2 separate regions of the Homo sapiens genome follow, and region 2 is linked to region 1. Evidence: fine-mapped expression QTL. A gene starts in region 1. The other region holds a variant in brackets. All regions are shown on one strand. Distances are from middle to middle. Region 1 holds the start of ZNF182 (zinc finger protein 182). Region 2 overlaps ZNF81 (zinc finger protein 81).

The links. PIP is the estimated chance that this variant, and not a neighbour inherited with it, causes the effect. A credible set is the group of variants that fine-mapping cannot tell apart.
Region 2: its variant is the best candidate, but not a certain one, in a credible set for the expression of ZNF182 in whole blood (TOPMed, PIP 0.60).

The regions. Positions count from the first base shown.
Region 1 is chrX:48,001,894-48,006,294 of GRCh38, reverse strand. ZNF182 (zinc finger protein 182) reads left to right here and starts at 2,306. Exons shown (of 6, transcript NM_001007088.2): 1 at 2,306-2,386; 2 at 2,593-2,787; 3 at 3,642-3,700. The coding sequence starts at 3,686. It also overlaps a transcript of SPACA5 not described here. RefSeq lists an enhancer at 2,381-2,690.
Region 2 is chrX:47,898,983-47,903,383 of GRCh38, reverse strand. All of the region lies in intron 4 of ZNF81 (zinc finger protein 81), which reads right to left. Among named protein-coding and RNA genes, the nearest start is that of ZNF81, 64 kb to the right of the region's middle. RefSeq lists an enhancer at 2,396-2,445. The variant C/T (reference allele first, on the strand shown) is at 2,337.

The DNA of each region.
Region 1 (4,401 bases):
TCCTCAGTACTCACATAAACTCCACTCACATTCACCCCCTTCAGTTGCCCCATTCATTCAGAGTCTGCTCCCACTTTCACCTTTTTTCCGCTGAGACTGTGCCTCATTTCCCATCATTTACTTAATCTCATCATAATCTCAAATTCATTCATAATTGAATGCATGCATAGTCATTCCCTCACTTTGGCCCACATCCACTCCACTCTGGTGTTCATTCACCTCCATTCCATTGCCCTTTGCCTCTCCTTGCTCTCATTTACTCCCAATTTGCCCTTCAGTCACCATTATTCATGCCCCTCACCCACCAGTCCCATGTATCTCCTGTTCACTGACACTCACATTGGCCAACACAGAAGCATCTGATGGATTGCTCAGGATTTGATCTGGCTGCACGCACCAACCCCACCACAAACACCAGTGGCTTCAAGAGGAGGGAAGCAGATTCCTCTTTTGGAGGCAGGTAATCCAGGGCTAGTGTGGTAGCTCCAAGGTCACCAGAGACCTGGCTCCTTCTGTGCTGTTGCTCTGTCAGCCTCACCTGCTGCTTCTGGTCCAAAATGACCGCTCACAATTGGCAAGGCTTTTGTGGTCTTGATAAAATGTATCATAAGAGCAATTGTAATGATGACTCGCCAGCCACGTGGGGGCTTCTCTCATTGTCTTTGGGTGGGAATGTCATATCATGCAGACTCTGTGGTGGGACCAGCCACCTGTCAGCTTCTCACTCTCCTTCACCTAGCCACCTGCTGCTTAGGTTACTGTATGAGGAGGTCACACCTGTAGGGAATGACGGTAGAGGATACCCAGGACAGAGAGTGGGAGTCCTCGCTCTGCAGCAGCAAAGTTAGCCTCACATAGCTTGTGCATGCACACTGTGGGCCCTCAGATAGTTTCTGAGGGGCTGTATCACTGGCTCCTCTGCCCCCCAACTCCCACCAACCCTAAAAGATTTCCTCCTTTGTGTAGGTGTGTGTGTACAAGGTGGTTGGAGATGACGTTTAGGTGCTAGAAGGGGCGACACTTGATGGGCCCTAAAGGACCAGCCCTTTCTATTTTCTACCTCCTAATGCATTGAGAGAGTGGATAAATTGTATACCCAGGAGGTGCTGATGTGTCAGGGAGCAACAGATGTGAGTTCCTTTTTTACTTTCTTTCTTTCTTTGTCTTGTCTACTGGGAAGCTCCATTCCTTTTGTTGTTGTTGTTGTTTGTTTGTTTTTTGTTTTTGAGATGGAGTCTCACTGTGTTGCCCAGGCTGGAGTGCAGTGGTGTGATCTTGGCTCACTGCAACCTCTGCCTCCCGGGTTCAAGCGATTCTCCTGCCTCAGCCTCCAGAGTAGCTGGGATCACAGGCGTGCTACCAAGCCCGGCTAATTTTTGGTGTTTTTAGTAGAGACGGGGTTTCACCATGTTGGCCAGGCTGGTCTTGAACTCCTGACCTCAGGTGATCCGCCTACCTTGGCGTCCCAAAGTGCTGAGATTACAGGCGCACGCCACCGTACCCAGCCCAATATATGTGTATTTTTAACGTTACTATATAATGCTAGATTGCTTCAGACTGGTCTTTACAGATCGGATCCTTCTTATGGTTTCCCATATGTCCAGAATGAAATATGAGCTCCCTGGCCAAGGAGGCCCTACAGCACCTGGCCCCAGCCTACACCCCCTACACTCCCAACACACTGACACTGTCTACTCATCCAGAAAAAGCAACCTGTTAGCCACCACTTAATATACCCCTTCACCCCCGGTGTGTGTGTCCCACATCGCCGTTTATTTTTCAGCTTGTTTGTCTGCATACCGACCCACCGTCCTTCAAACGCTACAACGTAAACTCCCAGTCCTGGCCACTGGATGAAGCCAGTGGCTTTTCCCTACCTCCTACTCTTTGTGCACGCAGAGCAATTTAGCCACGCATCCCGCCTTCCCGTTATTTTACACCTGCAACCCTGTTGCTGCCCTCCAAGTTCAAAGTGCGAAATTGCCGCCTGCTAGAATCTTTTCCTTAGTTGGGCACTTCCCCTCCCCGCCCTGCCGTAAGAAAATTGGTGTCTGAAGTCTTAGGAGTGCCTGCCTCTGCATAACTAAGTAAACAACCGCTTTGCGACGCAGCCCCAGCAGCAAAAGGACACGGTGGGCACGGCCATCTGGCCTGGAGCAGTGACGTCACCGGCAAGGCTACCTTCCCTCTGCGCCTGCGCTGCGGCCCCATGTTGACTATTGGCGGACGGGGTCTCAAAGGCGCCACTGAGCGTGCGCAGAACCGACCCCTGCAGCCCTTTAGGCTGCGGTGCCAAAGAGTCGGTCCCGAAGCGGAAGTGCTTGTTGGGGCCAGGCTTTGTAACGGTCTCCTGAGCAGCGAGCAGAAAATCTGTTATCGAGAGAGAGTGAGGTTGAGGGGGCAAGTGCTAGGGGTCGTGGGCTGAGTGATGGGGAGTTCTGTGGGATGAGTGAAGTGGGAGTTGGGGGTTGAGTGATGGGGGACCGAGAGGTCAGTGGACGAGGTTCTAGGGGCTCACTGGTGAACAAAGTTATGGGGGCTAAGCAGGATTAAATGGGGCTTATTAAACTTTGACTTTTACACGTTTTCCAGCACAGTGACCTGCCCCTAAAGGTTCATGCGCATCCCTCAGACCCCTCTTTAGACGCGCCCCGCTTCTCCCTCTGCCCTCTCCCCTTGCCCAAGCCCCGAGGTGGGGGCCTGGTGTGAATGCTCCGGCCGAAGTGAACCTGCACCCCCGCACCCGAAGGCCTCTTTCCGGCTTCTGGGCAAGGCGGCCCCGGTGAGGTGAGCAGAAGGAAGGAGAGGCACCTGCGAGGTCTCACCTGACCCCGGGCCTCGCCCAAGTTGGGGGCGTGGGAGGAGGGGTAGGTGCGGGGTCTGAGGGAGATGGGGGTAAAATGTAATTGGGATAATAGTTTTAGAGTGTAGTTTTTTTTGGCATTTAATAAATAACATTTGAATATATAGATTAATTCTGAAATAGAGAAAAAGAAAATCAACAGGAACTAATTCTTCCCCCACACATTTAAATGTCCGTTTTTAGACATTTTTGGTGTGTATAGGGGTATGCCTTTTAAACATTTAACATATAACTTTAAAATGGATTCCCGCAGTTTTAAAACCTACTTTGTAATTCACCTTAGGATTTTTTTGTACACCTTTTAAAAACGTTTAGTTGAGATACATATACCACAAAGTGCATAGATACTGTACAGTTCCATATAACGCTTTTAACAGCTTTGTAGCATTTTATCTTTTATATTTTGTTATTATTAATCCCTTATGGGTCATAGAGGATCGTTTAAGTTTGGCATTATTGAAATCAATGCTGAGACGTGGGTACGTGCAGAGAAATTATGATACATTATGATAAATTATTTCCTTAAGGAAAATACCTACAAATACACTTTATGGGTCAGTACACAATTTAATATATGTGTATATAAAACCTTTTGTGTTCAATGTTCACATGAAGAGTGAATAATACACAGATTGTTAAAATCACATGGTTGCCCAGACTCTTCCAGAGAGCAGTCTGATGGCCAGCTGATGTGAGGGGATTGCTAGGCAGCTAATTCTGGGCACTGAAAGTCTGATGGGGTCTCCTCATCTGCTGTACTCTTCTCCACTTGTTCCAGCTCGGCCGTCACACATCTCTGCTTTTTCCCAAGAAGAGCAGGAAATGGCCAAACCCCAGGTAAGTATGTTGTCTGTTTCTTCATTCCTCTATTTTACTGTGGATGTGACGAAATATGTGGAAATCCCTGCCATAAAATAGGAAAGTATTTGTAAATAAGGATTGGATCAGGCAAAATAAGAGACAACAGATCAAGGCCAAATTAGAATGTAGAGGTGTGCAGGACTCAGGGTGTAACAGATATTGATGTTGGGCTGTCAGTTTCTCTTTGAGCCTTCTGGTAGCCAAAGGGAAACATAACCAGTACCTTGGCTCACCTTACTCATCAGGAGAGAGCACACAGCCTTCATGGGAAGTCAAGGTTGCCTGGAATTGTGTTTAAAGGTATTTCTTTGCTGGGTCTTCATGTGGATAGTGCAGTTGCCCTCAACCACAGCCTGGTGACAAATGCTTTCCTGCAGATATGTGCTACAGCTTTCCTCAGTGAGCTGGAGACATCATGTCAAAATGTAACTTGGGAATGAAATCTCTTAGGGAACCTGCTTGTCTTTCCAATGATTTTCCTGAAGCAATTTCTTAGTCGGACTTTGAATTATCTTTTGTCCAAGAGACAAAATTTTTTCAGATACCTGCAGCCCACCATATTTTTTCTTTCACTTTAAACATTTTTATTTTTTAAATTAACATACAGTGAAATTGATTTTTGTTAGATTGGTGTAACTAATCTATAGGATAGATAATAGTTTCATCACCCCAAAAAA
Region 2 (4,401 bases), 100 kb after region 1:
ACATTGATTTTGTATCTTGAGACTTTGCTGAAGTTGCTTATCAGCTTAAGGAGATTTTGGGCTGAGACAATGGGGTTTTCTAGATATACAATCATGTCATCTGCAAACAGGGACAATTTGACTTCCTCTTTTCCTAATTGAATACCCTTTATTTCCTTCTCCTGCCTAATTGCCCTGGCCAGAACTTCCAACACTATGTTGGATAGGAGTGGTGAGAGAGGGCATCCCTGTCTTGTGCCAGTTTTCAAAGGGAATGCTTCCAGTTTTTGCCCATTCAGTATGATATTGGCTGTGGGTTTGTCATAGATAGCTCTTATTATTTTGAGATACGTCCCATCAATACGTAATTTATTGAGAGTTCTTAGCCTTAAGGGTTGTTGAATTTTGTCAAAGGACTTTTCTGCATCTATTGAGATAATCATGTGGTTTTTGTCTTTGGTTCTGTTTATATGCTGGATTAAATTTATTGATTTGCGTTAATTTTTATATTTTTAGTAGAGATGGGGTTCACCACGTTGGCCAGGCTGGTCTCAAACTCCTGGCCTTAGGTGATCCACCCGCCTCGGCCTCCCAAAGTGCTGATTACAGGTGTGAGCCACTGCGCCCGGCCCCACAAGTTCTGATGTGTCGATTTTCACTATCACTTCACTCAATACATTTTCATTGTGATATCTTTTTTGACTTATGGGATATTTGGATGTGTGTTGCTTACTTTTCAAACATTTAGATATTTTTTAATTGTTTTTCTATTCAGAGTTTTAATTTAACAGTGGTTAGAGAACATACAGTCTATGACTTCAATCCTTTGAAATTTGATGCAAACAGCTTTATATCCCAAAATAGTCTATTCTGGTGAATGTGCCATGTATACTTGAAAAGAATGTGTATTCTGTAGTTGTTGGATGTAGTAACCTATGTATGTCGATTACATCATATTGGTTTATCATGTTCTAGTCTTCTACCTCTTTAGGGATTCTTTTGTGTGCTTGTTACAACAGTTAGAGAAATAGGTGTGTTAAAATCTCCAACTATGATTGTGCATTTTGTCTACTTCTCCTTTTAATACTGCCAGTGTTTACTATATATTTTGAGGCTATGTTATTAAGTACATAGAAAATTAGGTTTATATATATATATTCCTGTTGAATTGAAATTTTATCAACTTCAGAGAAAGAGAGTACATTGGCGAAGATACAAGACATTAAAGTGACAATACAGAAGTATTAATGAAAAAAACTTATGTCGAAATATTGACATCTTAGATGGAATACACGAACTCCTTGAAGGAACAAATTATTAAAACAAGAAGAAATAAAAAATCTGAATATTCCTATATTAAAGAAACTGAATTTGAAATTAAAGACAGTCCCACAAAGAAAACTTCAGATGACCCAGATGAGTTCACTGGTGAATTTTATCACATATTTAAGAAAAAGAAATTTAAAGTAATCTTATACAAAATCACAAGAGACGTGAACACTGAAAAATTCTAGCAAATATAGCAAGTTTACACAAACTCTTTCAGAAAACAGAGCAGGCATGAAATTTCCAAACTAATTTTATGAAGCTAGAATTAACATGATACCAAAATCAAAGATATTATAAGGGAACCCCCCCCCGCCCACAAAACTAAAGACCAATCTCTCTCAAAGACATGGAGATTAAGATCCTTACCAAATATTAGCGAATCAAATCAAGAAATACATAAAAAGATAATACACCATGATGAAGTAAGGTTTATCTCAGGAATGTAAGTTTAGTTTGACATCTAAAAATCAGTAAAAATTCACCATATTAGTAGGATAAAATGCACTTTTCAATAAATACATAAAAAGCATTTGGCATTTAGAAAATTCAACATCAATTCATGTTTAAGACTCTCATCAAACTAGGAATAGAAAGAAATTGCCACAAATTAATAAAGAGCATCTAAGAAAAATCACAGCTAATACACCTAATGGTGAAAGACTGAAAGTTTTTGCCTTCAGATTGGGAACAAGATAAAATAAAAATAAACAGCATATAGACCAAAAAGGAAATGACAGAAAGGCATGATAATGTTTGCAGAAAGTTTTATGGTATTTATTCACAAAAAGACCCACTAGAATTAATAAGCAAAATGTAGCAAAGTCTCGGAATACAAGGTCAATGTACAAGAATCAATGGTAAGAGTTCTACTTCCAGTATGGAGAAGTAAGCTTCTGAAAAAGACCCTTCTACAGATAGTAAATGTAATCTCTAGAAAAACAAACAAAAATAAAAAAACAAACAAAAATAAAAAAACAAAAGCAGGCAGATTTTGTAGGGGGGTCAAAAGTTAGAGGAAGTGACTAGCA[C/T]GTAGTGAGTTCCCCTTTTCTCGGGTTTCTGTTGAGAGTAGCTGCACTCCTAGCAGCAATGTGGAGCAGCTAAAATTCTCATAAAAGCTTGTAATCCTTTTGCGAGAGGAATCAGGGGAAGAAGGCCTGGGTACCCGGGGCCACTAGAGATTAAGGGGGCAACTCAAAAAGAAAGAATCAAAAAAAGCAAATTCCTAATTCTGTGTATAAAATCTGCCTAAGTCTCTGGCTGACCCCTCAACTTTGCATGGGTAGAGCAAAATTAAAGCAGGGCTGAAGTGCACCTGAGTTGCCACTCGCCTTAGGTGAGACAGCATTTCCAGTGTCAATCTAACCTAGTTAATTGCCTGCTGTGATAAGAACACTGACATTCTTCAGAACAATATAACAGAATACCATGTTACCATAAACATTGATAATGTTCAGGACGCAATCCAAATTACTCAAAATATGATGGAGCAGAAAAATGTTCTTTTGATCACTTTCCAGCATCTTCAGTAGCTAGTTTTAAAAATATGCTTTCCAGGGTTAACAATTTTTTATCTGTCTGGCAGGTTATTTCAATATAAACAATTCTATAATACTAGAACTTGAGTTAATTTTTGTATAGGATGTGAAGTATGGGTCAAAGTATGAATTTTTCCCCCAATACTGACATCCATTTGTTCCAGCACAATTTGAAAAGACTTTCATTTCTCCCTTCAAATTACATTGGCACCTTTGTCAAAAATCAGTTGTCTATATATTAATGGGTCTATTTTTAGTCTTTCCCTTCTGTTCCATTTATATATTAGTGTGTCTTTACACCAATAACATACTGTCCAGATTGCTATAGCTTTAAAGTAAATCTTAACATTTGGTAGTGTCAATCCTCCGTACTTTTTCTTCTTCCTCAAGACTGTGTTGGTCATTCTAGGTCTTTTGCATATCCATATAAATTTTTAAATCTCTTTGACAGTTTTAACCCCCCCAAATTACAAATAATTGAATGAACAAGTAGAAGACAAATTAGTAAGGCATTAGAAGATTTCAACAACATGGAACCAACCTGAGTTATAGATTATAGAACACTGTACCCATCAACAACTGAACATACATTCTTTGCAGGGACACACAAAACATTCCCCTAGGTAGACCATATGCTGAAATCATAAAGAGTATGCTCTCAGACCACAACAGGATTAAATTGGACAACATAGAGGAAATAGACAAAATTCCTTGAAAAGTACAACTTACTATGTCTGGCAAAAGATGAAACAAAAAATCTGAATAGCTCTACATCTATTTAAAATATTAAGTTTGTCATTAAATCCTTCCTGTCAAGAAAATTCTAGGTCCAAATGGCTTTCTTGGTTAATTCCATGAAACATTAAAAGAAATAATAATCTCACACAAAGTATTTCAGAAAATAGAGAAGGGAACACTTCATAACTCATTTTAGTAGCCAGTATAACCATAATATCAAAACATGACAAAGACATTGAAAAAAAAGAAAACCATGAACCAAATCACTCATGAAAAACGCAAACTTTTAAGTCAAATATCAGTAAGTAGAGTCCAACAATATATAATAAAGCTAATACGTCATAATCAACTAGTATTTATCTCAGAAATACAAGGTTAATTCAACATTTAAAAATCAATGAATTCACCATAATAACAGAACAAAAAATGCTGATATATATAATATCTCTCCAATAGATGCAGAAAAAGCATTTGACAAAATTCAACACTCAATCATGATTTAAAAAAAAAAACTATGAAACAAGCTAGGATTAGAAAGGAACTTACACAGCCTGTTAAAGGGCAGGTACAGAAAACCTACAGCTAATATCATAACTTAATGGTGAAAGACTGAAGTTTTTGCCCACAATATCAGAACCAAGACAAACATGCCCACACTCACCCCTTCCATTCAACACTGAACTGAAAGTCTTAGACAGTAAAATAATGAAAAGAAATTAAAACATGAGTTTGGAAAGGAAGATGTAAAAGTGTCCCTATTTTTAGGTGATAATGATTACTTATATGAAAAATCCTGAGGAACTTACAAGAAAACTAATAG